2 separate regions of the Homo sapiens genome follow, and region 2 is linked to region 1. Evidence: fine-mapped expression QTL. A gene starts in region 1. The other region holds a variant in brackets. All regions are shown on one strand. Distances are from middle to middle. Region 1 holds the start of HINFP (histone H4 transcription factor). Region 2 overlaps USP2 (ubiquitin specific peptidase 2).

Evidence for each region.
Region 2: its variant is fine-mapped to the expression of HINFP in coronary artery (GTEx, PIP 0.96).

Annotation. Positions count from the first base shown.
Region 1 is chr11:119,117,012-119,132,102 of GRCh38, forward strand. It overlaps HINFP (histone H4 transcription factor), which reads left to right and starts at 4,569. Exons shown (of 10, transcript NM_198971.3): 1 at 4,569-4,628; 2 at 9,924-10,114; 3 at 13,714-13,943; 4 at 14,524-14,635; 5 at 14,819-14,971. The coding sequence starts at 9,934. It overlaps C2CD2L (C2CD2 like), which reads left to right. Exons shown (of 14, transcript NM_001290474.2): 14 at 1-1,533. RefSeq lists a silencer at 4,303-4,582.
Region 2 is chr11:119,364,563-119,379,653 of GRCh38, forward strand. It overlaps USP2 (ubiquitin specific peptidase 2), which reads right to left. Exons shown (of 13, transcript NM_004205.5): 2 at 8,145-8,959. The coding sequence starts at 8,918. Among named protein-coding and RNA genes, the nearest start is that of USP2, 9.6 kb to the right of the region's middle. RefSeq lists enhancers at 3,863-4,007, 3,879-4,809, 8,398-8,898, 11,765-12,343, 12,660-13,248 and a cis regulatory region at 3,929-3,942. The variant T/C (reference allele first, on the strand shown) is at 8,340.

The sequences.
Region 1 (15,091 bases):
GATGGAGCCACGCAAGGCTGCACCTCTGTGTGTTGGGAGACGATGATGATGTCCATTGCTGTGTGATGGCTTGGAATTTAATTTATTAAAGTCAAATTGGAGTTTATAAACTGGACAACTGGTTATCCTTTGAAAGGCAGTAGGCAGCCAGGCTGTGACATGGATGGTGTGGGAGGATGAGACAGGGGCCCGGATAATGAGGTTGGGTAGATGACACACATTGTGGATCTGCTAAGAAGTTCCTGCAGGGAAGAAGGGGTGTGCAGAGAAAGGATGGAAGAGACAGGAGGCTCTGGAGTATGAAATTGTAGCAAAAAACTCAATCAACTAGTACAGGTTAGTCTTCATTCCCCTTTCTGGAACAGGCTGCTCCTTCTAGGATGTAATGGAGATCAAAGCTTGGACCCTGTAACTAGACTGCCTGCCTGGGTTTGAGTCCCAGCTCTTCTAATTACTTGTGTGACCTTGGGCAAGTTATGTAACCTCTAAGTGCCTCAGTTTTCTCATCTGTAAAATGGGAACTTCAATCATCATGGCTATCATTTGGTTGTGGATGAGAAGTAAATGAAGTGCTGAGTGTTAACTGTTGCCTCAGAAGAAACTGGGAGGGGGAAGTCTTAGAAGTGTTTCAACATAATAAAAGCTCTCTCATTCTGAAATGTGGGCAAATTTCAGGGATTGATAGATCCTAGCAAACTGTGTCCCTGGTTCCCGTGCTTGAGATCTTATACAGGACTTGAACCAGGTAAGCTGCTACAGGATATTGGGCAGAATGCAGGACCAGGAAGCAAGAAAACTGAGTCTGCCACAGACAAACCAAGTGATCTTGAGCAGGCAACTTCTCCTTTGGGGACCTCAGTTTCCTCATATCTAAAATAAGGGTGACCTGGATAAACATTCAGGTCACTTCCAGCCTTGACATTCTATGACTACCTATATCTCAGGGTGTTTAGGGCACATGCCTTTGGGTAGATAGCATGTGGAAATTGTTACTATTCCCCATGCTCCTGTCCACACTACTCACCAAATATGAGATATCCGGGAAGAATGGAGGGTATAGATTTTTTTTTTCAATTAGATAATTTAGTTTTATATATTTGGGGGGACAAGTGCAGGTTTCTTACATGCATATATTGCATGCATAGAGGTGAAGTCTGGGCTTTTTTTAGTGTGCGCATCGCCCAAATAGTGAACATCATACCCAATAGGTAGTTTTTCAACCCTCACCCTCCTCCCACCTTCTCACCTTTCATAGTCTCCGATGTCTTTTATTCCACTCTATATGTCCATGTATACCCATTATTTAGCTCCCACTTATAAATGAGAATATGCCATATTTGACTTTGTTTCTGAGTTATTTCACCGAGGATAATGGCCTCCAGTTCCACCCATGTTGCTGGAAAACACATGATTTCATTCTTTTTTATGGCTGAGTAGTATTCCACTGTGTGTGTGTGTGTTGGGCGATGATAATGATGTCCATTGCTGTGTGACAGCTTGGAATTTAATTTATTAAAGTCAAGTTGGAGTTTATAAACTGCATTTTCTTTATCACTCACTACATTAACTACGTTTTCTTTATCCAATCCTCCATTGATGGACACATCGATTTGGTTGATTTTTATGTAGTGAAATGTTCAATTCTAAGTCATGAAAATTCAAAGAGATTTTTCAAGCTGTTTCCCCAGTCTAAGAAATGTAACTCTTAGTGGTTCACAGAGGAACAGTTTTTCTACCAGTATGACACGACAACCAAACACAGTGAACTTGTGATTGCACAAGAAACTTTTGTTGATGGGAGAACAGGTATTCAGAGTTCTACAGGACCTGGGGAATGAGTAGATGGTAACTGGAATCTGTATTGAGCTTCCAGTACTGAGCTGCCCAGAGTTCCATGGAATCACATATTTTAGTGAAGAAGAGCCTGATCACGTTTCAAAAATAGGGAATTTTTAAATGAATGAAAAAAATACGAAACATATTTTCATCAACTTAATCCATTTCACACTTTCAGAAGGGATCCACAGCTTTTAATGAGTATGAATTATGCTTTCAGTTTTTGTGGCAGCTTTTAAAGAACAAATCTCAGGATATGTCTGAATTACCCAGCCAAAATTGTGGCTTGTTTTCAAGAGAAGCAGATTGAGATAGAAGTAAACTATGCTAGACAGAATGACACTGCTTTAAATTTTGGAAACATATATATGGATCCCAGAGCAATCCTGAAATTTTTGCTCTGTAACCTATGTTTGAGTTTACACAGCTCTGTGAATGAACTTTTTCTTCATAAAATTGCTAAATAAAGCTAAAAGCTATTTTCAGTGGTGTAAATCTGAATTAAAATGAGGATGGCATTTCATGAAGTACTACTATATGCATTTTTGAATGAATAAAGTTGGTAAGATATATTTTGTTACTTTTGAATTACATTTTTTAAAACGCTTTTTTTTTTTTTTTGAGACAGAGTCTCTCTCTGTTGCCCGGGCTGGAGTGCAGTGGAGTGATCTTGGCTCACTGCAACCTCTGCCTCTCAGGTTCAAGCGATTTTCCTGCCTCAGCCTCCTGAGTAGCTGGCACTACAGGCACCCACCACCACACCTGGCTAATTTTTGTATTTTTTGTAGAGATGGGGTTTCGCCATGTTGGCCAGGCTGGTTTCGAATTCCTGACCTCATGATCCGCCCGCCTCGGCCTCCCAAAGTGCTGGGATTACAGGCATGAGCCACCGCGCCCTGCAAAACCCTATTTTAAAATAGGGACCAAGTTATAACTCACTGTTGTTAAAACCAAAATTTATGCACAAGTATGACTTTACTATCTTAATGGCATTTTAAATTTTATTTTATATATATTGAACATTTAATGTGTTTTCTGATTGTACAAATTATATAGGTTTATTTTTAGATTAGAAGATACAGAAAACTACAATGCAATAAAATATCAGTCTTAACCAACTTTATTAAGGTATATTATTTAACAAGTATGTCTTGAACCCTTACTGAGTTTCAGCCACTGGGCTAAGTGAGTGATGGGTTTTTTGTTTTATTTTGTTTTTTGTTTTGTTTTGAGACAGAGTCTTGCTCTGTTGCCCAGGCTGGTGTGCAGTGGTGCCATCTCAGCTCACTGCAACCTGTGCCTCCTGGGTTCAAGCGATTCTCCTGCCTCAGCCTCCCGAGTAGCTGAGATTATAGGCGCCCGCCACGATGCCCAGCTAGTTTTTGTATTTTTAGTAGAGACGGGGTTTCCCCATGTTGGCCAGGCTGGTCTTGAGCTCCTGACCTCATGTGATCCACTCGCCTCGGCCTCCCAAAGTGCTGGGATCACAGGCGTGAGCCACGACACCCGGCCCACTGATGGAGTTATAAAGGTGAAGAACTAGTCTAGTGAAGAATGCAGACTGAGAGTAAACAGACAAATACAATGTGACTGAGCTGTATTGTTAAATACAAGAAAGGACTATCAGGAAGACTTTTTGGAAAAAGAAGCATCTACACTGAGACCATAAAAATTAGTAGGAGTCAGTCAAATAAATGTGGGAGGAGGAGAAAGGGATTATTCCAGGTAAAGAAAACAAGTTCAAGGCTTGAGAGGTAAAAGGTGGCTTGGTGTGGTGGAAAAGGTGAAAGAAATTTGCGACTGGAGAGCAAGAAATATGGTCGAGAAGGACTAAAAAAAAGTAGACAGGGAGAGCCCAGATGCTGAAGGGTCTAGAAAACCTCAGTATGGTTTTGGAGCTTTGCCCTGAAAGCAATAGAATGCCTTTGAATTGTCTGAAGCAGATGGTAACTTGATCAGGTCTGCTTTTTGCAAAGTGGAGAATGCTTTGGAAGGAAGCAAGTGTGCACGCAGCGGGACCCATTAGACTAATGTATAAATCCTGCCTGGAGGTCATCACTGGACAGGGGAGGTGGGGGAGGCGGTGAAGATAAACAAAAGGGGATAAATTTGAAATATCCTGTTTTAAAAGGAGGTAGAATCCACAGAACTTGGCAATGGATTGGATGTGAGAAGTGAGAGGAATCAGTGATGACTGCCAGCTTTCTGACCTGAACGAGTGGATGAAGGGAAGCCGAGTTTTGGGGGGAAAGAGAAACATATAATACCAACATTTAAAACATAATAAGACTAAGAGGCTGAAGGAAAGGGTAGAACCTTCAATCTGAGCCGAGCGGGGCCGACAGCGCTGGGCAGCATCCCACGCCTTTTTCTCCGCGAGGCCCACGCAACCAGCCAACTAAAGCGAAGAACCACGTGAGGGAGACCCCACTGCGCACCAGGCGCGAGCCCTGCGCATGCCCGTTGGGTCCCGGAGGCCGAGCCTGCGCAGTTAGGGGAACTCAGGCCCATAGGCTCCCCGCCTTTGCGTTGCCCTGAGCAGCGAGGCGCGGTCACGTGCTACCTTTTGCACGTATCCTGTCGCCCCTCTGTCCGCCCGGGACGCCTAGCCCCACCCACTGTTCCCGCCCCTTCCGTGTTTTGGTGCGCACGGGTTCCGCCAGACACAGCTACCATTGGCTGTCAGTCGGATCCGAGAACGACGATTGGCTTTCCTTGACCGTCCCTCAAGCGCCTCTCCGGAGATGGTCTGAGGTGGGAGAAGAGCTGAAGAGACCTGGAGCCGACAGACGGTAAGCTGGGGTATGTGCTCTGCAGGGGCTGCAGGAGGCCAAGCTCTTCCCGAGCCACCTCGGCGAGTATTCTTGCCGCTTGGCCACGCTGGTCTGCCCTGGTCCGGTCCCCTCACCCCGACTGGAACCTCCCTGCTTTCTAGTCTAGGGGCTTCGCTGCGGCTGAGACTCGGTCGCCGCCACGCCTTAGCGTGAAGGATTCCGGGAAGCCTGCGGGACTGCGAGTGGAGAGGTTTTGCCCAACGGGACGGTCTCCTTCCTTCTGTCCAAATTCTACCTGTCCTTCGAGGCGTGGTGCGGGCCCCACTGCTTAGGGGAGACTTCCTTTTCGCCTGACCGCGGAGGTGTCTCTCTGTCCTGGTCTCCCTCATCGGGTACTTTGTTTCGGTCGTTGTCTTCACGTATCAGTCTTATCTTTTTGGCCAAATTATGAGTTCTTAGGCGTTTAGGACCCTTTTTTTCTTGAATACCACAGTTCATTCATTGTCTTGCGTTACAGTATATGCCCTCTTAAGTGTTAAGAGGGTAGAGTGAAGATCATGCCCCTATCTCCTCAGAGTAGAAACAAGAGACACAGAAAGAGAAATTAAAGAAGACAGGAGGACAGTCAGAGAGCGTCAGGGAGTTTTGCCTAGGTTTCAGATCATTCTGTATCGCCAGCTAGCTTGCCTCCTTGGACTTACCCACCAGTCTAACAGCAGGTGTATGTTTAGAATATTTGTGCTCGGCACAGTGTAGGGACACGGGCAGGTGTGATATGGTTTCTGCTCAGAAGCTTCTTATAGTCCAATTGGGTAAACGAGACTAGAACACATAAAACGACCATGGCAACATGAAAATAGGGTTGAAGTTTTATGGTGTCAGCTGTGCCAGCCATAGAACTAAGGAGCAAGAGTAGATTCAGGGATGGGGTAGTTTAGGAAGGCTTCCCGGAATGTGATTATCTCCTGATATTTATTGAGTACCTGGGGTGTGCAAAGCTCTGTGCTGAATCTGAGAATGAGAAGTGAATAAGTGATGGCCACTGTCCTGAGAAACTCCTAGTCTAGGGGAAACAAGTTTCATTGCATTGATAGCAAAGATGTGTGTGGATGCCGTGGGCAAGAGATGGGATATGCCAGCTGTACCTGGATGAATTGGGAAGGGGGTCATCAAAGAGAAGACTTTGGGGTTTGAAAGGCGAATAGAAGTTGCATAGGTAGGCCTGTCGCGGTGGCTCACACCTGTAATCCCAGCACTTTGTGAGGCCGAGGCGGGCGGATCACTTGAGGTCAGGAGTTTGGGACCAGCCTGACCAACATGGCAAGACCTCGTCTCTACTAATACTACAAAAATTAGCTGGGCGTGGTGGTGCGTGCTTATAGTCCCAGCTATAATACTTCGGAGGCTAAGTCACGAGAATCGCTTGAACCTGGGAGGCGGAGGTTGCAGTGAGCCCAGATCACAGCACTGCACTCCAGCCTGGGCGACAGAGCAAGACTCCATCTCCAAAAAAAAAAAAAAAAAAAAAAAGAACTTGCGTAGGCAGAGAGTTTTAGGAGAATGTAGAGTATTCAGAGACAAAGATGATTGAATCAGAGGAAGAGGGAATGAAGTATGGGTGAGGAAGCCAGAGAACAGCATCATGTGGGAGAAAGAGCATGATCTTTGGATTGGAATGAGGGTGCTCTTACATCAGATGAAGTGTAGAGAGGACTCACCACAGGGCTGACACACTGTAGCTTCTCAATAGATGTTCGTTTCCCTACCTAGAACTGGAGAAGTAAAATTGAGACCACTTTGAGAAGAGCCTTGCATTTCATACTGTAATAGTCAGAGGAGGTGTGGGATTTTATGACTTTTGAAGCTTTTTTCTACTTTTCTTACCACAACATTATAAAAGCAGTCAATATTCAATATTTCTTTCTTCTTTTTTTTTTTTTTGACAGGGTCTGGGTCTGCCGCCCAGGATGGAGTACAATGGTGTGATCTTGGCTCTTTGCAACCTCTGCCTCCTGGGCTCAAGCCTTCCTCCCACCTGAACCTCCCAAGTAGCGGGACTGCAGGTGCATGCTACCACATCGGCTGTTTTTTTTTTTTTTTTTTTTTTTTTGAGATTGAATCTTGCTCTGTCACTAGGCTGGAGTGCAATGGTGCGATCTCGGCTCACTGCAACCTCTGTCTCCCGGGTTCAAGTGATTCCCCTGCCTCAGCCTCCATAGTAGCTGGGACTACAGGCGTGTGCCACCATACCTAGCTAATTTTTTGTATTTGGCCAGGATGGTCTCAATCTCCTGACCTTGTGATCCCCTCGCCTCGGCCTCCCAAAGTGCTGGGATTACAGGCATAAGCCACTGCGCCCGGCTGATTTTTGTATTTTTAGTAGAGACGGAATTTTGCCATGTTGCCCAGGCTGGTCACAAACTCCTGAGCTCAAGCCATTTGCTCACCTCAGCCTCCCAAAGTGCTAAGATCGTGAGCCACTGCACTCGGCCCAGCAGTCAATATTTGTAATAGGGATTCACTAGTAGTCTGTGAGCAGCTCAGCAACCCTATATGCACCCCAGAGTGTTAAGGATGACTGGATTCTTCTCTGAGGAGGAGAAAAGGCTATGTAGGTACAGTAGGTATAGTGGGTTCAGAAAAGCCTGTATTGGGGGCATGAAGGATCTTCTGTTTTTTCGTATTTTCTGTTTTTTTTCCTTTTAGTATTCAGTAAAGGCCTTTTTTCAGAGTTCCCACCTGTCTCAGGTAGGCCAGAGAGAGCAACATGGTGGGGTCAGCAAGAATCCGTGAGAATTCCTGAGGAGAAGGTGACACTCAGGAGACAGAGCCAAGGCCGGCTAGTGTCCTCTCTCTAGCAGAAATTTTGCTTGCAACGTCACCCTCTGTTCTGTGTTTCGTTTATTCTTTAATTGTTACTCAAAGTATGCTTCTGGAACTGCTTGCATCACAACTGGGGTGCTGAGTTAAAAGGGCAGATTTCTAGGCTTAACTCCTGCCTTCCTGAATCCGAACTTCTCACGCAGGCGCTGGATAACTACATTCGTGTGCAGATCTAAAATTGAGAGCTACCTGGGCATGGTGGCTCACATCTATAATCCCAGCACTCTGGGAGGCTGAGGCGGGTGGATCACCTGAGGACAGGAGTTCGAGACCAGCCTGGCCATCATGGTGAAACTCTGTCTCTAGCAAAAATACAAAAATTAGCCAGGCGTGGTGACACACCTGTAATCCCAGCTACTCAGGAGGCTGAGGCAGGAGAATCTCTTGAACCCGGCAGGTGGAGGTTGCAGTGAGCTGAGATTGCGCCACTGCATTCCAGCCTGGGTAACAGCGAGACTCTGTCTCAAAAAATAAAAATAAAATGAAATAAAATTGAGAACCTTTAGTTTTTTGTTTGTGTGTGTGTGTGTGTTTTTTTTTTTTTTTTTTTTTGAGACAGAGTCTTACTCTGTTGCCCAGGCTGGAGTACAGTGGCACGATCTCGGCTCATTGCAGCTTCTGCCTTCCAAGTTCAAGCGATTCTCCTGCCTCAGCCTCCCGAGTAGCTGGGATTACAGGCTTGTGCCACCACGCCTGGCTAATTTTTGTATTTTTAGTAGAGACAGGGTTTCACCATGTTGGCCAGGCTGGTCTTGAACTCCTGACTTCAGATGATCCACCTGTCTTGGCCTCCCAGAGTGCTGGGATTAGAGGTGTGCACCAGTGCGCACAGCCGAGAACCTTCAGTTTCATGTTTATCTTTCTTCAATAAATATTTATTACAGACTGGGTGCAGTGGCTCATGCCTGTAACTCCAACACTTTGGGAGTCTGAGGCAGATGGGTTGCTTGAGTCCAAGAATTCGAGACCAGCCTGGGCAACATGGCAAAACCCTGTCACTACAAAAACAAAACAAAACAAAAATTAGACAGATGTGGTGGCGCATGCCTGTGGTCCCAGTTACTTGGGAGGCTGAGGTAGGAGGATCTCCTGAGCCTGGGGAGGTCGAAGCTTCAGTGAGCTGTGATTGTGCCACTGTACTCCAGCCTGGGTGACAGGGTGAGACTCTGTCTCAAGAAAAAAAATATTTATTACATGCCTAAGCATGCCTAGCAGTGTATAGACACCCAAGGTGCAGTATAAACTACACAGATACGGCTTTTTATGTTCAAATGGAATCTACATTTTAACAGAAGGTATTAGCAGAGTGGTGGAGTAAACCGTTGGATAGGTTAGGTAAAGGCAGATTGTATGGCACTGTGAAAGTCTGGCAGGGGACTTATGATTCAATAAGAAATAAGGAGCTTCTAGGCTCATCTGTAGGCTCTATGGAGTAGAACCGTATATGGACTAGAGTCAGCCCAACATGACCCTACCATTACCACTAGTGTGTGGCCGTGAGCAAGTCAGTTGACCTCTGGAACTTCAGGTGTTTATCTATAAATGAGGTTAAAAATAGCACCTACCAGCTGGGCGTGGTGGCTCACACCTATGATCCCAGCACTTTGGGAAGCCAAGGTGGGTGGATCACCTGAGGGCAGGAGTTTGAGACCAGCCTGACCAACATGGGGAAGAAACCCTGTCTCTACGAAAAATATAAAAATTAGCCAGGCGTGGTGGCGGGCGCCTGTAATCCCAGCTACTCAAGAGGCTGAGGCAGGAGAATCGCTTGAACCCGGGAGGCGGAGGTTGCAGTGAGCCAAAATCGAGCCATTGCACTCCAGCCTGGGAGATGAGCGAAACTCAATCTCAAAAAAAAAAAAAAAAAAAGCACCTACGGCAAAGGGTGGTGTTGGTAATTAAATGACATAATGCAAATAAAATGCTTACTGTGGTGCTTGACATATAGTAAGTGTGAAATTAAAAACAAAAAGATTTATTATCTTCATTTTGCAGATGAGAGTATTCAGAAGTTAAGTTCTTGACAAAGGTCATACAGCTAGTAGATGGTAGACAGTGGAGCCAGGATTTGAACCCTGATCCTTCTCAAAAGCCATCTGTTTGAACCTGAGCATTGTTCTGCCTCACAGAGGAATAATTCCTTCTTGGTGGGTTGCTCTGAAGCTTCATGAGAAAATGTCTGTTAAAGCGTTTAGCTCAGTGCCTGGCACACACTCAATAGTGTTAGTTTTTGTTTTCCCTTTCCACAAACACCAGACATCTTCCAGGGATTTAAGGAATTACTCCATCCTTACTGTAAAAGGGCAGGGTTTCTCATGGGTCACTGGAACAACACGTGCTGATTCTAGGCAGGCTGCCTGCCCAGCTTTTTGCCCTCAGCAGCACCTGGGTGGAATTCTTGCAGCTGTGGATTTCTTCCTCTTCCTCTAGGGTGAAGGCCATGCCGCCTCCTGGGAAAGTTCCCCGAAAGGAGAATCTGTGGCTACAGTGTGAGTGGGGGTCCTGCTCCTTTGTGTGCTCAACCATGGAAAAGTTCTTTGAGCATGTCACTCAGCACCTGCAGCAGCACCTGCATGGCTCTGGGGAGGAGGAGGAAGAGGAAGAGGAGGATGACCCACTTGGTAAGAGAGCAGGACACAGGAAGGGGAGGAGCTCAAGGAAAGGTGGAAAATCTGACTTTCTTTTCCTTAGAGGGAGAAGGCGGCCTAAGAGAATGGTGGTTTATTTTCCTAATTGTGTTTTTGTTGTATATAAAAACATTGTAAACTCATTTATAGAAAACTCAGTCAACAAGGATATAAGGAATAAATCTGCCATCCTGCCATCAAGAAGTAATTGCTGACAGTACTTTAGTGAACATTGTTTTTGACATCTCTCTGCCTGTGTTTACATATATTTAAATACAGATGAATGTGCTTTTTTTTAATCATTCTGTACAAGTTGTTGGCAACCTGTGTTTTGTTGTTGTGTTTTTTTTTTTTTTTTTTTTACTCTTCTAGTATTCCCAATTTTTTTTTTCTTTTACTGCAACCAGTCAGAAATACATCTTACTTTTTAGAGACAGGGCTTCATCTTGTCACCCAGGTTGGAGTCCAGTGTCATGATCATAGCTCACTGCAGCCTTCAACACTCAAGGGATCCTCCTGCCTCAACCTCCCGAGTAGTTAGGACTGCAGGCATGTACCACCACCACACGCCAATTTTTAAAAAAATTTTTTTTAGAGACAGGATCTTGCTTATGTTGCCCACTGATCTCAAACTCCTGGCCTCGAGCAATCCTCCTACCTTAGCCTCCTAAGTAGCTGGGACTATTGGCTTGTGCCACCAAGTCCAACCCCACTCCCACCTTCCAATTTTTTTTTTTTTTTTTGAGACGGAGTCTTGCTCTGTTGCCAGGTTGGAGTGCAATGGTTCGATCTCGGCTCACTGCAGCCTTTGCCTCCCAGGTTCAAGCAATTCTCCTGCCTCAGCCTCTTGTAGCTGGGACTACAGGCGCGCGCCACCACGCCCAACTAATTTTTGTACTTTTAGTAGAGATGGGGTTTCACCATGTTGGCCAGGATGGTCTCAATCTCTTGATCTCATGATCCGCCCACCTCGGCCTCCCAAAGTGCTGGGATTACAGGCGTGAGCCACCGCACCTGGCCCCATCTCTCACTTTTTAACCTTTGTCTGACTTATGTTTTAGGTATGCCTTTTATCAATAGCAAATAACTGGGATTTTAATAAAATCCAATCTGAAAACAATAACAATAGTGAACTGTATTCTATAGTACCTACTGTGTGTTAAGTATTGCTGGGTACTTTATTTTTTTTTTGAGATGGAGTCTCATTCTTGTTGCCCAGGCTGTAGTGCAGTGGTGCAATCTCGGCTCACTGCAACCTCTGCCTCCTCGGTTCAAGCGATTCTTCTGCCTCAGCCTCCCGAGTAGCTGGGATTACAGGTGCGTGCCACTACGCCCGTCTAATTTTTTTTTGTATTTTTAGTAGAGACAGGCTTTCACCATGTTAGCCAGGATGCCCCTGTTGGCCAGCCTGGTCTTGAACTCCTGACCTCAGGTGATCCGCCCGCCTCAGCCTCCCAAAGTGCTGGGATTATAGACGTGAGCCACCATGCCCGGCCAGTACTTTTTTAAACCTACATTAAAGCACTATTTCCCAAAGAGCCTATGAGATAGGCACTATTATTATTATTATTTATTATTATTATTTTTAGATGGAGTCTTGCTCTGTCGCCAGGCTGGAGTGTGGTGGTGCGATCTCAGCTCACTGCAACCTCCACCTCCCAGGTTCAAGCAATTCTACTGCCTCAGCCTCCCGAGTAGCTGGGATTACAGGCACATGCCACTATGCCCAGCTAATTTTTTTTTGTATTTTTAGTAGAGACGGGGTTTCACTGTGTTAGCCAGGATGGGATAGGCACTATTATTATACCCATTTTACAAATAAGGAAACGGAGGCACAGAGGAATAAAATAACTTGCCCAAAGTCACGGTACTAATAAGTGTGGCAGGATTTAAAAGAAAAAGGAAAAAAAAAACTTTTTTTCAGAGTAAGATGGAGTCTTACTCTGTTGCTCAGGCTAGAGTGCAATGGCATGATCTCGGCTAATTGCAACCTCCGCCTCCCGGGTTCAAGTGATTCTCCTGCTTCAGCCTCCCAAGTAGCTGAGATTACAGGTGCCCGCCACCACGCCCGGGTAATTTTTGTATTTTTAGTAGAGACAGGATTTCACCATATTGGCCAGGCTGGTCCCAAACTCCTGACCTTGTGATCTGCCTGCCTCGGCCTCCCAAAGTGTTGGGATTACAGGCGTGAGCCACTGCGCCCGACCAAAGCCACTTTTTTTTTAGAGACAGAGTCTTGCTATGTTACCAGGTTGATCTTAAACTCTTGGCCTCAAGTGATCCTCCTGCCTCAGCATGCTGAGCAGCTGGGACTATAAGCATAAGCCACTGCATCTGGCAGGAATACATTTTTCTTTTCTTTTTTTTTTTTTTTGTGGGAGTGCAGTGGCTCGATCTCCGCTCACTGCAAGGTCCGCCTCCCGGGTTCATGCCACTCTCCTGCCTCAGCCTCCCAAATAGCTGGGACTACAGGCGCCCACCACCAAGCCCAGCTAATTTTTTTTTGTATTTTTTAGTAGAGACGGGGTTTGACTGTGTTAGCCAGGATGGTCTCGATCTCCTGACCTCGTGATCTGTCTGCCTCGGCCTCCCAAAGTGCTGGGATTACAGGCGTGAGCCACCGCACCCGGCCCAAAATGTGGTTGATAGTTCACTGAACTGATTTCCTAACCCACTAGTGGGTCACAACACAGTCTGAAAAACTCTATTCTACAGGAAATATGGAGGCAGCTCTCCTTCTCCCACCCCAAATTCTGTTTTAAGTCTGATGACTATGAACCATAATTGATAGTTTCAAAATTCAAGTCATATTTATACAAAGGCAAAATTGGGGAATGATTATATTTTCTAAAGTATCTGTGTTTCAAAACAAGTTAACTTATATAAAGCGCTGAAAATACAGTGCTTAGGGATGCTAGAGAGATAGGAAATGGATTGGAAGAGTTGATGGGGCCTTCTTGGAGAAGGCAGATCTTGAGCAAAACATGAGGGGAAGGAGGAGTGGTGGTTTTACAAGGAGAAGTGGGAGGTGTCAGATCGAGAGGCAGCATCTTCATCAGGAACTGCAGAAACTCAAGTCAGAGGACTTGCGTGCCGGCCATTTCTGCTGTCTGTTTCTGGCATAGGCCTTGCACACACTCTCACCTCTGCCTAGACCACACTTCTTCACCTATTTACAGATACTCATCCATCGTACTTCAGAGTTCAACATGGGGACGTTTCTCAGAACACCATGTCAAATGACCTCTGTTTAATGCTTTTATAGCACCATGTATATCCCCGCTTTGTAACACTCATCACTGGTTGCAGTTTTATATTTATAGATCTGATTATTTGATGAATATGCTTTCTCCCTGACTGAAAGCTATGTGAGGGCAAGGAGTGGGACACTTTTTACTTGTTATAGTCCCTCTAACTGGCACACAATTTATGGTCATTAAATACTGGTATTTGCTAAATGAACCCTGGTAATTTGGTTAGAGTCCAGCCTCCTCACGAGTCCAGCCTCCTCACTCTCTGTTTAGTGCTGCAGGTGGAAGGTGACCTGAGCCTTGGAAAGTGTCAGACTCTTCCTTTTAAACCCCTTTCTACAGAGGAAGAATTCTCCTGCTTGTGGCAGGAATGTGGCTTTTGTTCTCTGGACAGTTCTGCTGACCTCATCCGCCATGTCTACTTCCACTGCTACCACACCAAGCTGAAACAGTGGGGGCTGCAGGCCTTGCAAAGCCAGGCTGACCTTGGCCCCTGCATCCTGGACTTCCAGAGCCGGAACGTCATCCCTGATATCCCTGACCACTTCCTGTGTCTGTGGGAGCACTGTGAGGTCAGCAGGCAGTGCCAGTAATTGGGGTGGAAGGAAGCTGGGGGTCTTAACTCTGATGCCTTGTCCCTTTCAGGGATGCCTTATATTTCCAAGATTCCTGCTAGTATCTCTCTTCCATTTCTTTTGCTCTTTTAAAATTTGTTTATTTTTTACACACAGGCTCTTGATCTGAAGCCCAGGCTAGAGTGCAGTGGTACAATCATAGCTCACTGTAACCTTGAACTCCTGGGCTCAAGCAATCCTCCCACCTCAGCCTCCCAAGTAGCTAGGACTACAGGCATGTACCACCATGCCCTGCTAACTTCTAAATTTTTTGTAGAGACAAGGTCTGGGTGTGTTGCCCAGGCCGGTCTCGAACTCTTGGCCTCAAGTGATTCTCCTGCCTCAGCCTCTCAAAGTGCTGGGATTACAGGGTTTAGCAACCGCACCCGGCCACTCCTCCATTTCTGTGCAGTGCCTTTCCTCAAAATTTCCCATCCCCATCAAGTTAATTTGGGAGAGAGCCAAGAATTCTTCGGGCACATAGGGGTGAGTCCCTCTACCCACCCTCAGTCCTCACCCCAAGTTGCCCCTGGCACAGAATTCCTTCGACAATCCTGAGTGGTTTTATCGGCATGTGGAAGCACACAGTCTGTGCTGTGAATACGAAGCAGTCGGCAAGGACAACCCGGTGGTGCTGTGTGGCTGGAAAGGTAGGGCTGCTTCTTAACTTGTGGCTTCTGGAGGAAACGCTGGGGTTCCTGAAGAGCTGGGACAGAAAGGGATAGGGGTCCTACAGGGGCAAGGTTGACTGCCGGCTGGAGAGACTCAGGGGTACCAGATCCTAGGCAAAACTGGGGTTTTGTGGCAGGAGACTGATAGGGCTTCCTTCCCAGGCTGTACCTGCACCTTCAAGGACCGCAGTAAACTTCGAGAGCACCTCCGCAGCCATACCCAGGAGAAAGTGGTAGCCTGCCCCACCTGTGGGGGCATGTTTGCCAACAATACCAAGTTCTTAGATCACATCCGTCGCCAGACCTCATTGGATCGTAAGTAGTCAGAGGAAGTGGGGTGGATGCAGGCTGTCCTGCTTGGAATGGGTTAGGGGCATGTTTCTAGTGGGGGTGGCCACTGAAGAGACCTGCCTTTTGGCTGCCTCTTCTTTTTGG
Region 2 (15,091 bases), 250 kb after region 1:
TAACTCTTGAGGGGGCTGCAAACCATTTTGAGAACGTGATGAAAGCTCTTCTCTCTTCAGGGCGAAATACGTATATGCACAAACTTTTGTCTAGAGTTCCGGGGGTACTCAGGCCTTCGTGAAGACCCAAACTCATGCAGTCTGTGGAGGTCAATGTGCCCAGGTTAAGAAGATGGACCTTCACGGCCTAGGGGCTGAGCTGCCCTCCTCAAAACAGTCCTGTTTGGCTTCTTTCAAGAGAGGCAGTGCTCATGTTTTATAAGGTCCAATAGGTCACCTTCTCATTTGGCTCCTGAAAAGAACCTTTTCTGGTCTCTTCTAACCAATTACCCAGCTCCGGCTCTCCCATTCTCAAATTTGACTTGTTTTGGGGAGCTGGGGAGAAAGCAATACAATAGTGGGGAAATAGGCGCTCAGCTGGCATGGGGCGAGTGTTCTACTCTGGCGTCAAGCACAGCCATGCTGGAAGATCAGGGGTCTTTAGATTTCGTTTCTGATGCCCCACCCCTCCACCTAACAGGGAAGCTCACGAATCTGCCTAGAGAAAGTATCTTGTTTGGAGCTTGCTGGCTATTTTTAGCCAGTATTTTTAGCATTTAAAAATACTCCAAGAGGCAGCAGTGTATGCTGTTACTCATCTGTGGGCTCCTTCTGTTCCTTCTGGTGTGCTCATCCCCACATGTACACGCACACATGACCACAGCTACATGGGGACTGTGTCCAGGACACACGTATGGCAGTACCCCAGGCCACCGACAAAGCAGCAATTTCATGCTAATGAGAGAGGGATGGGGACAGTTGCCCCCTCCCCTGTGTGCCAGCAGTGTGGTGGGAGGAGGGGGCAGGGGACAGGAACCACAGGCAGTCTGCTTGTGATCAGTGAGAGTGGGCATGTGAGGAGTGGTGATCTCTACAGTCACTGTCCTCACCCAGACTCTGACTGAATCTGGACCCCGGACAAACTGCAGCAGCCTTTCTCCAAGCCTCCTTTCCAGCCAAACGCTTTCAAGCCAGCCCTACACCATCTGAAGCAATGTTTGCATCTGATCTCATCACTCTTCTGTCCTGAAACAACTAGAGCACCTGCCCTTGCATCCAGCCCCGAAGCCTCAGGTAGCCTTTCTCTAAGGCTGTTTGTCCACAGGCCCACCACCCTCAGTCTTTGACCACTGCTGTCAACCAGCCTGTGCTTATCCTCTGCTGAAAAACCAAAACTGCCACTCATTAAGTACTTATTAGATCCCAGGCACTGGGTTAAGGGTTTTATATATATTATCCCAGTTAATTTCTATAACATCATGCTGTAGTAACTATTACCTCTATTTTATTTGTTTTGTTTTTTTTTTTTTTGAGACGGAGGCTTGCTCTGTCGCCCAGGCTGGAGTGCAGTGGCACGATCTCGGCTCACTGCAACCTCTGCCTCCCGGGTTCAAACAATTCTCCTGCCTCAGCTTCCTGAGTAGCTGGGATTACAGGTGCGCACCACCACGCCTGGCTAATTTTTGTATTTTTAGTAGAGACGGGGTTTCACCATGTTGGCCGAGCTGGTCATGAACTCCTGACCTCAAGTGATCCGCCCACCTCAGCCTCCCAAAGTGCTGGGATTACAGGCGTGAGCCACCACGCCCGGCCTATTACCTCTGTTTTATAGGTGAAGGACCTTAAGCCTAGAGAGGTCAAATGACTTTCCAGGACTGCAAAGTTAATAAATGACAATGTGGGGCTTTGTCTTACAGCAAAACCCATGCTTTTAACAGGAAATTCTGGGATGTACTTCCTGCTCTCTGCCAATTACCTACTTGTAAATTCTGCCTAAAATTTGCATCTTCCAAAAGCCTTCCCTAATTAACTCCACCCATCTCTAAACTCTCCATTACTGCATATCGTCAGTCTATGCGCATTCAGTTTGCATGGTGTTAATCTATCTTAATATGTTTATCTTTGCTTTATAAGTGTTTCAAAGAGTCCTATAAATGGTCTTGTGTGTGGCTTGTCTTGGTTTTGCCAGCACACTGAAACCTCCTCAAGGGCAGGGTTGTGGGTTCTCTTGGTGGGTTCTTAATAAATGGTGTTGATCTTGTCTCTAAAGAGGGCCAGACCAGGCTCTGCTAGGAATCCTGGGAGTCACACTAAGCCTCAGAGGGTGGGGTGTGAGTCTGCTTTTGCATGTTGAACACATGTGCTGCTGGGCTTGGGGGGACCTGCCCAAGAGGTGCTCACCCACTATAGCATTTGGCCTGTTTCCCCATGACTTAGACACAGTGATGTAAGCACTCCCACCCAGGACATCTGGGTGTTCTGCCAGCTTGCTCTCCCTCTTCCCTGGGATTTAGGAGGTTAGAGGGGTTGCCAGGAGCAGGGAGGGCCAGATGCAGAAAGCTTTAGCGTGGGAGCACTTTGAGAAGTCTGGGGTTGGGGGAAAGAATTCACACAGAGTCCAGTCTAGTCAAGCAGGTCCGACTGCTGCAGGACACGGCCACAAAGGACCTTGGCTCATCTCTCGGCCAGCCAGGTCTCTGTGAGACCCTTTCTCTTCACTGCCATTCTCGGAGTGGGATGGATACAAAGGATAGAGGCTTCTGGCATCTGAATCTGGCTCTGGCTCAGTGACTCTCTGTGCTTCAAATACACAAAGCTAAACTGAGCTGGGCTCATTCCTGCATCCTGACTGCCGTTCCTCAGAACCTGGGCTTGGCCTGCTTCCCTATAGGATAAGTAATTTTTGTCACCTTAAATCCTTCCTGGCATGAGATGGAGTGATATAAATGAAAGTTAGGGCTAGCTCTATGAGGGCGGGGACTGAGAGTATTCTGCTTCTCTCAGATCTGCGTGGGCAGCTTAGGCCAGGGTTTGGTGACACTGCTGGGGCTAAGGCAGATGTCTTAAAGCCTGGCTCCCAGCATGTGCCTGCGATTACCACCGCAAATGGACAGACCGGTGGCCTGATTGATTGATGGATGAAAAGGTAGGGGCTCTGAGTCCTTGTTAGGGGTTGGGCTTTTGCCCCACAGTGCACCTTGGGGAGAGAGGGTCAGCCCATCCTCCCCACTCTCTGTAGGAAGGTCTGCTTCCCTGCATGACGTGGACCCCAAGAGGCCAAAAGCTCTGTGCACCTTTGAGCCCAGGCAGTCTGGCCTGAACCAGCTGGATTCCAGAGGCCCACACACCTCCTTCTTTTGCATGTGTCTCCGTCTGGGGCGCTAGTTTTATGTACGTATTGAGGTGAGAGAGTACAAGGGGCCACGTGTGCAGCTTTGGGCTCTGAACATGATGTTCATTTCTGCAGCTGGTGGTCAGTGGAGCGGCTCCCCCAGGGGCAAGGAACATTTTGCCAGGCTTGGATTAACTTCTGCATTGCTGAGCCCCACCCCAGCACCACATTAACTCATGAAGACATCCTGGAGTGGGGGTGGAGGAGGAGGCGGGAGGATGGTGCTGGGCACCGATTGAGAAATTGAGCCTGGATAAGGCAGTACCAAGGCTAACGGCCAGGATACAGCCCACAGCCGGTCTGCAAGGGATGGAGACATCAGTGTCTTGCTGATTCTAGTCACAAACCGCAAACCCACTGCCCTTTCCTTCGCAGCAGCTAGTACAGCTCCTGGCCAAGGGGCCCCTCTGGCTTAAGGTCCTTTAGTGACCTTCTCATGCTGCCAACACAGATTCATGACCTCAGGAAGTTCAACCTCCTTAGGGTGGCTTAGTGATCCCGGGGTGGGAGTAGGTAAGGACAGACCCCAGGATCTCAGGCTGCCAAGCTAGACAAACAAGGCAGCAGGGATACAGGCCAGTGTGGCTGCGTGAACGGAGCGAGAACATGAGGGACGAGAGGCGAGTTGTACTTCTCACCTAGGAGCTCCAGGACAGCCCCTGCTATCCGCAATTTGTTCTCTTTGGAGTAACCTCCGCTCACTGCAGGGCAGCATTCAAGTCCAAAGTCCCACCCCAGGGAAAAATCACATGACCTCAGCTTATATAATCTCCCTGTCACTGAACAGCTGGAACCCAAGGCTTCGGAAGATGAGTCAGCAGCCCCAGTGGCAAATAGGACCCAGGTATTCAGTTTCCCAGACCTTTTGCTCCTAGAAACAGGTCCTAGAGCGGAGGGCAAGGGTGTGGAAGAGACTGGGTGGGTGAGAATAGGCTGGGCCAGACTCTGAGCCTCAGCCCTGGCTCTGCCTCCGAGTTGCAGGTGCCCAGCTTGCTGACTGTGCTCTGGAGGGCCCTGGGCCAACCCCTGGATCTTCTTGGGGAGAGGAGAGGGTGGCCTGGGCAGGGTGGGGCAAGGGCTGGGCAGAGGCCAGCGGGCAGAATGCCAGGGCTAGGGAGGAGCAGCTGGAGGGGTGGAGCTGAGGGGGATTAGGAAGGATTGTAGGGGTTAAAGCGCAGCCCTGGCAGGGCTCAATGGGAACAGCTCGTCCTTCCATAGACCCCGGGAACAGGAGAAGTGGGGCAGAGTAGGGAGATGACAGGGTTGGGACTGGGGCTCCTGGGTCTCTGCAGGGCTGAGCCACCTGAGCTGGCTTGGAGTCCCCACTTGGGTTAGTGAACACTTTTTTTCCACCATCACTGTTCCTCCTCTCTGCATTTTAAGCAGAAGGTGAAGTCTCAGGGGAGGCCCTCATTATACAAGTGCTGAGCTGCGCCCCCCTGGCCTGGCATTTTGTTGGTGCTTACACAAGCATGGGGAGGGGATAATTCTGAATTTATGTGGCGCCCCCTGCCACCCGCCCCTGCCCCCCGCCAGCTCTGTGCTCATGCTCAGCTGAGTCTGTGATATTCAAAGTTCGTGTTGCCTATTACTGTTAATGAGGGAAAGAAGTCTGGCTAGAACTGTTCTCCCTGGTCACAGCCTGCTGTTGACCTCCCTTAATGAATGCCAGCTGTAGCTCCAGTCAGCTATCCTGAGAATCCCCTGGGACACAGGATGTACTTTTTTTTACCTCTGTTTCTCCCACGGGGTTGGTGGGGAGGGGGCTTCCTACTCTAGTCAGCTGCCAAACGCCCCCTTTCTATGATCTCTTTTCCCCCCTTAAGTTTAAATGACCTCTTCTGCAGCATTTTATTGATTTCACATTCCTCCACCTTCATTATTTGCTTTGAGCCTCATGGCATGCTTGAGAGGTGGGCAGGGCGGGCGTGATTGTTCCCTTTTATAGTCTAGGAAATACAGCCCAGCTGATAGGTGTCCAAGGTTAGAGAGGCCAACTGTTCCTTCCACTGGTCACGAGCAGCCCGTCCCAGCCTCAGATGACCTCTCCCTTTCCGTCCACCTGTGACACTCAAGAACACCCAGGGCTGCCTCCCATTGTACCTATTTAAGAACTTCTTCTTGGCCAGGCGTGGTGGCTCACACCTGTAATCTCAGCGCTTTGGGAGGCCGAGGCGGGTGGATCACCTGAGGTCAGTTCAAGACCAGCCTGGCCAACATGGTGAAACCCCGTCTCTACTAAAAATACAAAATTAGCCTGGTGTGGTGGTACACGCCTGTAGTCCTAGCTACTTGGGAGGCTGACACAGGAGAATCACTTGAACCTGGGAGGTGGAGGTTGTAGTGAGCCGAGATCGCACCACTGCACTCCAACCTGAGTGAGACAGAGCGAGACTCCATCTCCAAAAAAACAAAACAAAACAAACTTATTTCCCTAAGTGAATTGTGAAGGCACTGAAGGCAGGGACTGTTGCTCGCACACATCTCTTGCCTGCCAAAGCACCAGAAGGGTACAACAACGAGGACTAACATTTACTAAGCAACATGCCAGGCACTTTCACATACATTATCTTTTCATTCCTCAAGTAATCTGTGAAGTGGGAACTATGATCACTCATCTTACAGAGGAGGACACAAGTTCAGAAGCTAAGGGACCTATCTGAGGTCACGCTGCTAGTAAGCTGAGCACCACAAATGAGTGCCTCAGAAGGCAAGATCCCCAGATGGAGATCTAGAAAGAAACTGGACCCAGTTTTAGAAAGAAGTGGTCCAGGCCGCACGAGCAGGGTTGTTCTCACCTCAGCAAGACGCACTCTGCTCCAGGAAATGACGATAAGGGGTGGAGAGATCAGGGTGAGGTTAAATAAAGGTCTTGTACTATTGACCCTGGAGAGGCCTCTGCTGGTTGGCAGTATCTTCTGGGGCATGAGCTCAGAATGAAACACTAGCTCAACTGCAGGGCATTCCCGGCTAAAGTGCCTTATGAGTTGCTTCTGGATGAGGGTGGCTGAGTTTGTCCCAGGGCAATCTGCCACTTCTTTGAGGTCCTCTCTCAAAATTCCCTTCACCTTGGCCCTGGAGCCGGGGGGAGGAGCCAGGGTTGTCCCTTCTGGAGAGTTGGAGGGCGGCAGACTCCCAGGAGGGTTGGGCCATGCCTGTGTGGGGAGGAGGCAGATTCCCAGTGGAATCTGATCCCCAGTAAAGGGGAATACTGCTGTCATGATTGGGGCTGAGGGTGGGTCTGTAGTTTAGTCTGCGCTGAGGTTTTCCATCTCAGCATGCCTAGAGATCACCCAAAGAGCTTGTGGAAAGAGCAGCTTCCCAGGCCCCATCCCGAGAGAGTTTGCTTCAGTGGGTTTGGATGAATCGTTAAGCCCTGCAGTGACTCTGACACAGGCAGTCTGCAGACCCCACTTTAAGGAGCACTGCTGACCATGAAACAACCCTTCTCTTCTGAGCAAGGGGAGGGAGCCCCGCAGAGGCTTCTAGGACCCGAGCCCCTCCGAGGAGAGCCATATTCTAATTGCCCTGGGGTTGAACAGCACCAGCCGAGTCCAAGTGAGTCCTGCTCCACTCCAAGCCCAGCACGCAGCACCCTGAGAGCTGATACTTCCCCACCATGCCAGCTCTGTTGTGACACATCTCTCTTCTCCACTCCTTTCTACAGTGGATCCAGCCCTGCCTTGTCAAGTTCTGAATGTTCTGGGAGGCACCAGCGTTTCTATCTCCTGTGCCACTTCACAGATGGCACAACAAAGCCAAGACTCCCTAAGTCATATTATCAAAGTTGCTCTCTCAAGACCTTTAGTTATGCAAGCTTCAAGGTCCTGCCCCTATTCCTGAACCCCTGCTGCATTTGTCTGGATCAGCCCTCCAAGCAGTATTTCTTGCTGTGGCATGCTGTTGTTTTCAAAATGTATTTGTCCTAGGAGTAGGGAGGGGTACATAAGGTAATGGAGGAGACACAGCATCCAGCCCTTCTGCCCATATGCTTGCCTGTCCATCTGTCCACCCGCCATCTACCCGTGTATCCACCCACCCACCACCCACACATCCATCCATCCATTCATCCCTGCAATCAGCAGGTCAGCCCCCATTGTGGGAGGCACGTGGCAGGGGATCTAGAGATAGGATTTCTTTTTCCTCCTCTGAGAGCTTGCCACCTAATGGGCACACTAATAACTACAGAAAAGGCAGATGTCGTCAGTGCCCCAAGAGAGGCGTGTGCGGGCATTAGTTGGCGAGCGAGCCCATGCCAGCCCTTGGTCAGTCTCCAGCAGAGCCTCTTCCCTCATTCCAGCTGAGGCAGGGCTGGAATAGAGGTATTGGATTGTCTCAAGCCCTAGATAAAAATTTCTCCCCTACTTTCTCCAAAGCCAGATGATAAGCATTGCTGTCTGATACCCTGGTCCTGAGTATGCCAGTGTCACTCAGAGGAGAGTCCCTCTTCCCCTGATGTCTTATGTCCAAATGTAAAGCCAGGCCTTGGGGCTAGGGAATAAAGCCTGCACAAGAGGGGAGATGCAACCACAGCAAGGAGGCCCTCCTGCCACAGGGTGCACTGGTGGTCTGGGCCCCCCCGCATCCAGCCCAGGTTGGGGCAAGGCCTGCAGGAGACACTGGCATGTCACATAGAAAAGGAGAAGGTGAGAAGAGTGGTTCATTGGGCGCAGCAGAGCATTCCTGAGAACACTACTGGACTATCCTCGAGTGCGCGGGCCCTGAGTGGGCTTTCTAGGCAGAGTGGGAAGGCCCCTCCCCTCGGCACGGAGCCCCAGGGGCACCAGATGTGCCAGGATGACTTCTCTTGTTTGTCTCCACCAGGAGCAGCCTGTCAGTCATCAGTCAGGTTGGGAGTCGAGCCCTCAGCCTGGCTGTTCTCCATCAGTGGCTGCCTCCCCAGCCTATCCCCGGTCCCCAAGGGTAAACTCACCATGCCGTCTCTTCCCGGGGAGCTGGAGCGGCTGGGCCCAGGGGCCTGACCCTTTCCCGTCTCCCACAGCGTGTAGCGGCCAATGGGTCGGTAGGTTGGGCTGATGATTTCAGGGACTCGTGAGGGAGGGGCCTGGGAGGGCACCTGAGATGCACTGCCCTTGCGACCATAGTTCTCCAGGTAGTCGACCAGGTA[T/C]TCAGGGCAGCTGGCTGTCTGGTAGAGCCCCTGCAGGGTGCAGAGCTCCTTGCGCGTCCGGGCCAGCATGGGGCTGCGGCCCAGGTTCCTGGGGTCTATCCGGTAGCTATCTGAGGTCCGGAGGCTGGAGAAATCCCGGGCCAGGTCTGATTGGCTGTCCAGCTTCTGGGTTAGGGTCACCCCCTGGTCATAGGCATTGATGGGCAGGTAGCTGAGGCAGTTGTTGGTCACTCCATAAGGGAATCCGCTGCCCCCGCTGAGGCCACTGCCTAAAGGCCGCTCAGTACCCCGGGTCTGGCTCTCTGCCCGCTTACCACCCCCAGTGATGTCGGGTCTCAGCAGGGGGCGGCCCCGGTCATAGTCCAGGAGGGAGGAGGGGCCATAGGTACGGGGACGGGTGAGGAAGCTGCTGGTGGGGACCGGCTTGAAACCAAGTTTCTCCTTCTCCAGTAAGGAGGCAGCCAGATTGGCCCCATAGGAGGACGGGGTGTAGGCACCATAGCCCGACTTGGCATAGTGGGCATCTGTGTAGCGGGCCGATTCTGTGTAGCGCTTCAGGGTGGAGGAGAGCTGGGACATCCTTCAGGGTGGCACTCAGTGGGGACTGGGAGCCTCATGGGCTGAAAGACAAGGAGTGTAGTTGTCAGAGGGCCCTGCCAGGTGTCGGGCTCCCACAGACCTGCTCCCCATCCTCAGCTGGGCCAGAACCTCAGAGCTCCCAGTCCATTTCCACAAGAGGCAGGCTGGCTGCTGAGAAGCACACATGCACGCAGGTGTGCACAGGAGCTTGCTTGCACCTGTGTGTTCACACCTCGGTGAGAGTGCGAGGGATGAGGTGGCTTTTATATGCCACACAGGAAGTCAGCGCATCCTGGCCATTCAAAGACTCAAACACGCAAGCAGGGGCTATCTGACCTCCACAGCCCACCAAGCCGTGCAGTCTTCCAGGTCAAATCCCATTGCCTCAGCATCTGCAGAAACTCTTGAGCTGGGGGAATGCCACTGACCCCTGGGTTGAGAATGCTGGATATTTCAGGAGTTAAGACCACATCTGTCCCTTCTGACTTATGTGATGAGCAGGTGTCTTTTTGGAATCCTAGACTGTCTGTGCTGGAATGACCTGAAGATCATTTGGTCAGATCCCCTGTGAGGCCAAGGAGGCTCAGGGGAGGAAGTAATGGGGTGTGGGTGGGCAGGGGAGGCCGTGAGTGAGCATGCAACAATGAGGGGCCAGAACGTGGTCTCCAGACCCTTTCCCCAGACACCAGCACCTGCTGCATGGTCCCACAGTGAGGGACACTCACTTCACTGAGCTAAGCTTCTGTTCTAAGTGGAGTTAGGGCCCTGTGGCCTCCTAAGAGTTCCTCTACCAACACAGGCTTCCTCTACAAACACAGATCTCAAATTGGTCCTGGCGATGCTTGTGCAAAGGGGGCCCCCTACAGTCCCAAATCTTGCACTGCAGGTGGCATTCCCAGTCCTTCCCTGCTCCAGTCCTGCAGCTGGGGAGGGTCTAGTGAAGGAACACAGACACTGCTGAATGTGGAGCTTTGAGAGCCCCAGAGGATCATGAATTTTAATCTATCTGTTATACAGATGGGAAAAGTGATGCTTATTTGCCCCCGGCCACACACCAGCAGAGCCAGGACTGGAATCCAGGTCTTTAAAATCCTGGCCAGTGTTCTTTCTACTTAACCTGGAGTTACCTCCCCCGCATCAGATTTAGGGTCAGTTGGGGACCCCCAGAGGCCTTCCATCACCGTAAACGTGCAGCCTGTATCCAATGGAGCTGGAGTGGCAGAGGAGCAAGTAGGGTCAGACGCCTTTCCCCGAGGGCATCAGGGGCTCTTGGGGGGCTTTCTAGGGGGATGGAGCAGAGCCATCCAGGACTCTCAGAGTTGTGGGACTTGCCCTGTGATGGACTAGCTGGGTGATTTTGCACTAGTCACGTAACCTCTCTGAGCCCCAACTTCCTCATCTGTAAATGAGTAAAACCATCATCCTCATAATTCCTACCTCACAGGGCTGTTGTGAGGAATAAATGAGATAACAACACGTGAAGGGCTCCACAATGACAGTGGCTACCATCTCCTCCCCCAGCTACTGCGAGGCAGCATGGCTCCGCCCTCTGAAGGTCTGTGATAATATCAGGGCTGGCTGTCTCCCAGCCTGGCCAGCCTCTGGCCTCAGCTTGGGATGCCAGGCCTCCCCCTGCAGCCCCCAGCGAGAGAAACAGGCAGTGGGCAGACATCTGGCCACTCAGCAGACACTGGCTTGGCAACCCAGCCCATTAGGGCAGAGAGGAGCTGGTGCCAAACCCCAAATGCGAGGGCTTGGCAGAAAGCTCTAGAATCCCAGTCCACACAAGGCTTTGGGGTAGGTACAGGGGTGAGAGATGAGCAGGTGGCTTCCATATAGGCCCGGAACAGCATTCCTTGACCCTGCCTGAGAACTCCAGCAGTTTTCAGTCCAGGCTGACATCAGAAAGGCCTGGTCCATCTTACTGTCTAGCCTTTTGCCACCTGGCCCAGGGGGCCCCTGGCCCTTCATGTACACTCCTTTGCCCACTGTGCCCAGCACAACTTTCACCCCTTTCTAGGAAAAGGTAACTGGGGGATGATGTCACACAGCGTTAGAGGGAAACCATAGCGGGAGAGACAGACAGAGGCACAGGGTCGGGGTGGGGGCCCAGTCCTGCCCTATTTTGCTTTGGAGAACTCCATCAATAATGCAAAGTCAAAGAGACTCCAGGTCTCAGGAGCTGGGCTCTGGGACACCAGGCAGCCAATCAGATACAATCCCCCCAACAAGGGTATGAGCTCATGGCTCCTCCCCACAGCTCTCCCTCTCCCTCCCCCACAGTAAGGCTCTCAGGGAATTGGTATTCTTCGGGCAGCGCCCCAAGCCCGTGACATCCCTTGACCCTGCTGATGACGCAGAAGTGCTGGGGCCAAACGAGGTCCAGAGGACAGGGACAGACAGCTCTGAAAGGCTTTGGAGCCGGAGGTGGGGCCACATCTCTGGCCCACAGATTCCCAGGAGGGCTCCCAAATCCCCACTCTCCCTCCCATCTGGCAGGTGATTGCCAGACCCCTCCGCCTCCTCCTAGCAGCCCTGGGAGTCATGCCATCACTAATACTCCATGGAAGCTGCCTCTCGGCTCTGACTTCTAGCTACAGTTCCCATGCCTGCGGAGAGGGTTCCTACTGGGGCCGGGGCCTTCCACATGTCTCTCCCCTCCCGCAACCCCCAGTTTCACTCTCAAAGGTCCTAGCACCTTCCAGGTGAAAGCACAGCCTGGGTTGGTGCCCCTTGGCATTACCTGCACAGCTGTCCCTGGAGGCCACAGAATGCACTATGGGCAGGAGAGCGGGCTGGGGCCCTGGCCGGAGTCTCGCTGCGCAAGACAGGGACAGGACGGGCACTCACGTGGCTGCGAGTCTCCCTGTTGCCACAGGAACAGCCTGAACTGAATGGCCCTTTCATGGGGCAGTGGGAGGCAAGCCAATTGGCTGGGATCCCCCATACCCCTCCCTGCCCAGTGCGGGGGGCCCCTGCTGCCCAGCTCCTTTCACTGTTTACCCAGAGCTGGCAAGTACAGGCATGCAGCTCCAGGCAGCGCCTCTCCAGGTGTCCGCCACCTTGGACAATGGGGGCAGTCCCCTGCCCAGCTCCTCCTCCTGGCCATCTTCACTGAGGTGTCCTGACCCTTCCTTCTCTGTCAGAGATTCCTGTTGCTTTGCTCAGTTTCCCTCTCCTGGGAGGTGCAGCAGAGTTCCTCTGCACAGAGGCACTGGGCTTCCTGTCAGGGCATCTGAGCCAAGCAGCTGTCACCCCAGCTGGCTGGTGCTGATCACCTCTGAACCAGGCCCCAGGCATGTTGAGTACTTCACATGCAGCTTCTGAGTCCATCTTCTCTGCAGTCTCACATCAGCTCTCATCGGCCCTTGCCATGTGACGCATTCTTCTAGATGTGCTTCATACACAGAGCACCCCAAAAAGTCTTAGTGCAGGTTTAAGCTGGGATTCTTTCAGACATAAATGTCTCCAACTTACACACCTCTTTGGACAGATTAAATTATTTAAATTAAAATTTAAAAACATTTTCACAATTAAAAAATAAATATACAAGAAATTTAAATATGGAAACTTTCAAATGAAGTTTTTAGCATTCATATTTCTGAAGTTATTAAAGCTTAAAACTGCACTAAGGCTTGGGACACAGTGCATTAACTCACTGAATCCTCCCTGCTCCTTTAAGCGGTAGGTGCTGTTATCACGTCCATTTGCAGATGAGGAAGTTGGCGATGCTGGGAGTGATGTGGATTTCCCAAAGTCACACTGGGAGCAGTGGCAGAGCTGGGCTGGACTCGTGCTCTGTCTGCTATATCTGGCCTGAAGCCCAGACCCCTGCTTCACTCTTCCCTGGCTCTCCATGGGACGGGTCAGGACTGGGACCTGTGGGTGGGGTTTGAGGGAAGGACCACCACAGGATCCAGGTGTCCGTCATCCAGTAACAGCATGCGGTGTACAGACTCTGGCAGGAGCAGCCCTCTGGATTTTCCACTGCAGGTGAATGAAAGTGAAGCCAGGTGCAACTCGAGCCCCAGAACAATACTGATAGGCCGAGAGATGGTCCAGGAAGCCTCCATTTCACCCACTGTGCCAAGCCCCTGCATGTCCCCTGGCACCAGCATCTACCCCAGCTCGGGGCCTTGGGTCCCTGGCCTGGTTATGAGCAAGTCCCTAGCCTCCTACCCTGGCTGCAGCTTGGCCCACTCCTCAAGGTACCCATGCTGGGTGAGTCAGGGGTTAAAATGAACCCTGTCCCCGTGGGGCAGCCAACCCCTTTGCTTCAGCCACTGTCATTTCCTGTTGCTCACATGAAGGGCTCCCTAACCTGCCCAGCCAGGGGAGGGACTTGCTCCCCAGGAATTCCAGGCGCTCCTGGCCCTGGGGGCAGGGGATGGGTGATGCCCCACATCCCAGTAACCTTCATGGCTTCTCTCTGCCCAGATCTGCTTGGCTTTCTGGGGTGAAAGCCTGCTTTGCTACTGGGGCCTGGATAGAGAGCCTCTAGCTGAGTTTCAGAAGCACGCCTAAACAGGGTTAAGTCTCTTCCCTCCTACTCAGGTGCCCGGAAAAGGTGAGTGGGGAGTCCCAGCCAGTCCCGCCAGGTGGTTGGGAGCCCCCACAGTGGTGACCTCAGAGCTTCCTAAAGCCACTTGCTAACAGCATCAGAATGTGCTGACCTTGAAGGACAAGGTGGGTGAGAGGGGGCCCTGTATCCTTCCATCTGCACTCTGACCCTGCCTCCCAGCTGCTTGGGTCACCTGCTGCACTATCTGGGCACAAGTGTCTGGTCCTGGAGGATGGGATGAGGGAATCCTGGCAGGTGTAGAGGACATGGGTAGAGTAGGGGATGGGGGGGCGGGGGCATATTTATGCTCAAACAGTCCTTGAACTCCGCCTACTCCTCTCAGGCCCCAGGGCCTGGGCTGGCCTCCTCCCCTCCAGCCTGTCACTAGGCTTTGTCTATCAGGGGCTAGCACCCGCTGATCCACCAGCCTAATCCTCTTGCCTCCCCTGGCAGGGGGTCATCCAAGGGAATTTGGGTCCATTTCTCTTTCTTGTGCTCCCAGTAGTTACCCAAGAGCTGGGGGAGGGGAGGAGGTAAGATAAAGAGACTGGAGATTAAGGCAAGAATCCTGACTGGTGGAGAAGAAGTGGATGGGCCCAGGGCAGTTTCTATAGGGTGCTCCTTGATTTGGGGTTGTGAGTGGGTGGGCATCTATACACTTCCAAGACAAGGCAAAGAAATGGGCCTCCAGGTAGTATTGGGATCCTTAAATTCTCTTTTCCAAGCACCTCTGCCCAGGTACTCTCCTGGTGCCCCCTCCCAAGGGGAGAGCCCCGGTCTCCTTCCTTCTCCTCTAGGGCGTCATCTTTCCTCTGTTCTCAGCCTCCGGAGGAGCCTTTGGTCTTGCCCCTGACACCCACCGGGCCCAATGGGGTGGCCTCTCACATGCTCTCCCAGATTCACTGATGTCTTTCCTCTAGGTAGAGTCCCAGAGAAGCTCAGATACCAAAGGGGCAGCTACTGACCTGTGTCCAGGGGCACTGGATGGGAGCTGGGGGCTTCTCCTTCCCCAGCAGGGCAGGGAATGCAGTGGAAAGCCCAGAAGCTGGAGCCTGACTCTGGGCTGGGTAATCCGGAGCTCAGGTTACTGACTCCGATATATATAGTATCTTATCTGACCTCGCAGACTCGCAGAGATGGCGAGTGCAACTCACTTGCATTCCAAGCCCCAGGAGAATTAAAGGGGCAGTGGCGTGCTCACCTTGAGGGGCTGCCCTTTCGGGCCAGTGCCAGCCAAGGAGGTCTGTGAGGACTCTTGGAAGGGGGGCATTTTGAAGGGGAACAATCGGGAGATTCAAGAGGAAAGAGCATTGAAAAGAGCACAGAGGGGTGGGGGTGGAACTTGAGACAAAAATATGGAGAAAGTGGATTTTCCAGAGCAGTCAGTCACAGAATTAGAGAACAGGAAGAAGCCATACAGTTAGCCCCACTCTTAATTTTGAGATAGAGTAGACCTAGAGAAAGAAAGCAGCTTGCTCAAGGGCATGTGCAGATAGCGAGAAGCAGAAAGGGGACTAGTACTCAGGTTTCAGTCCAATATTCTTTTCTAATGGACTTCTAGGCCTGGGATTGGAGGCTAGTTCTTTCCCTTATTGGCTCTGAAATAGTGGAT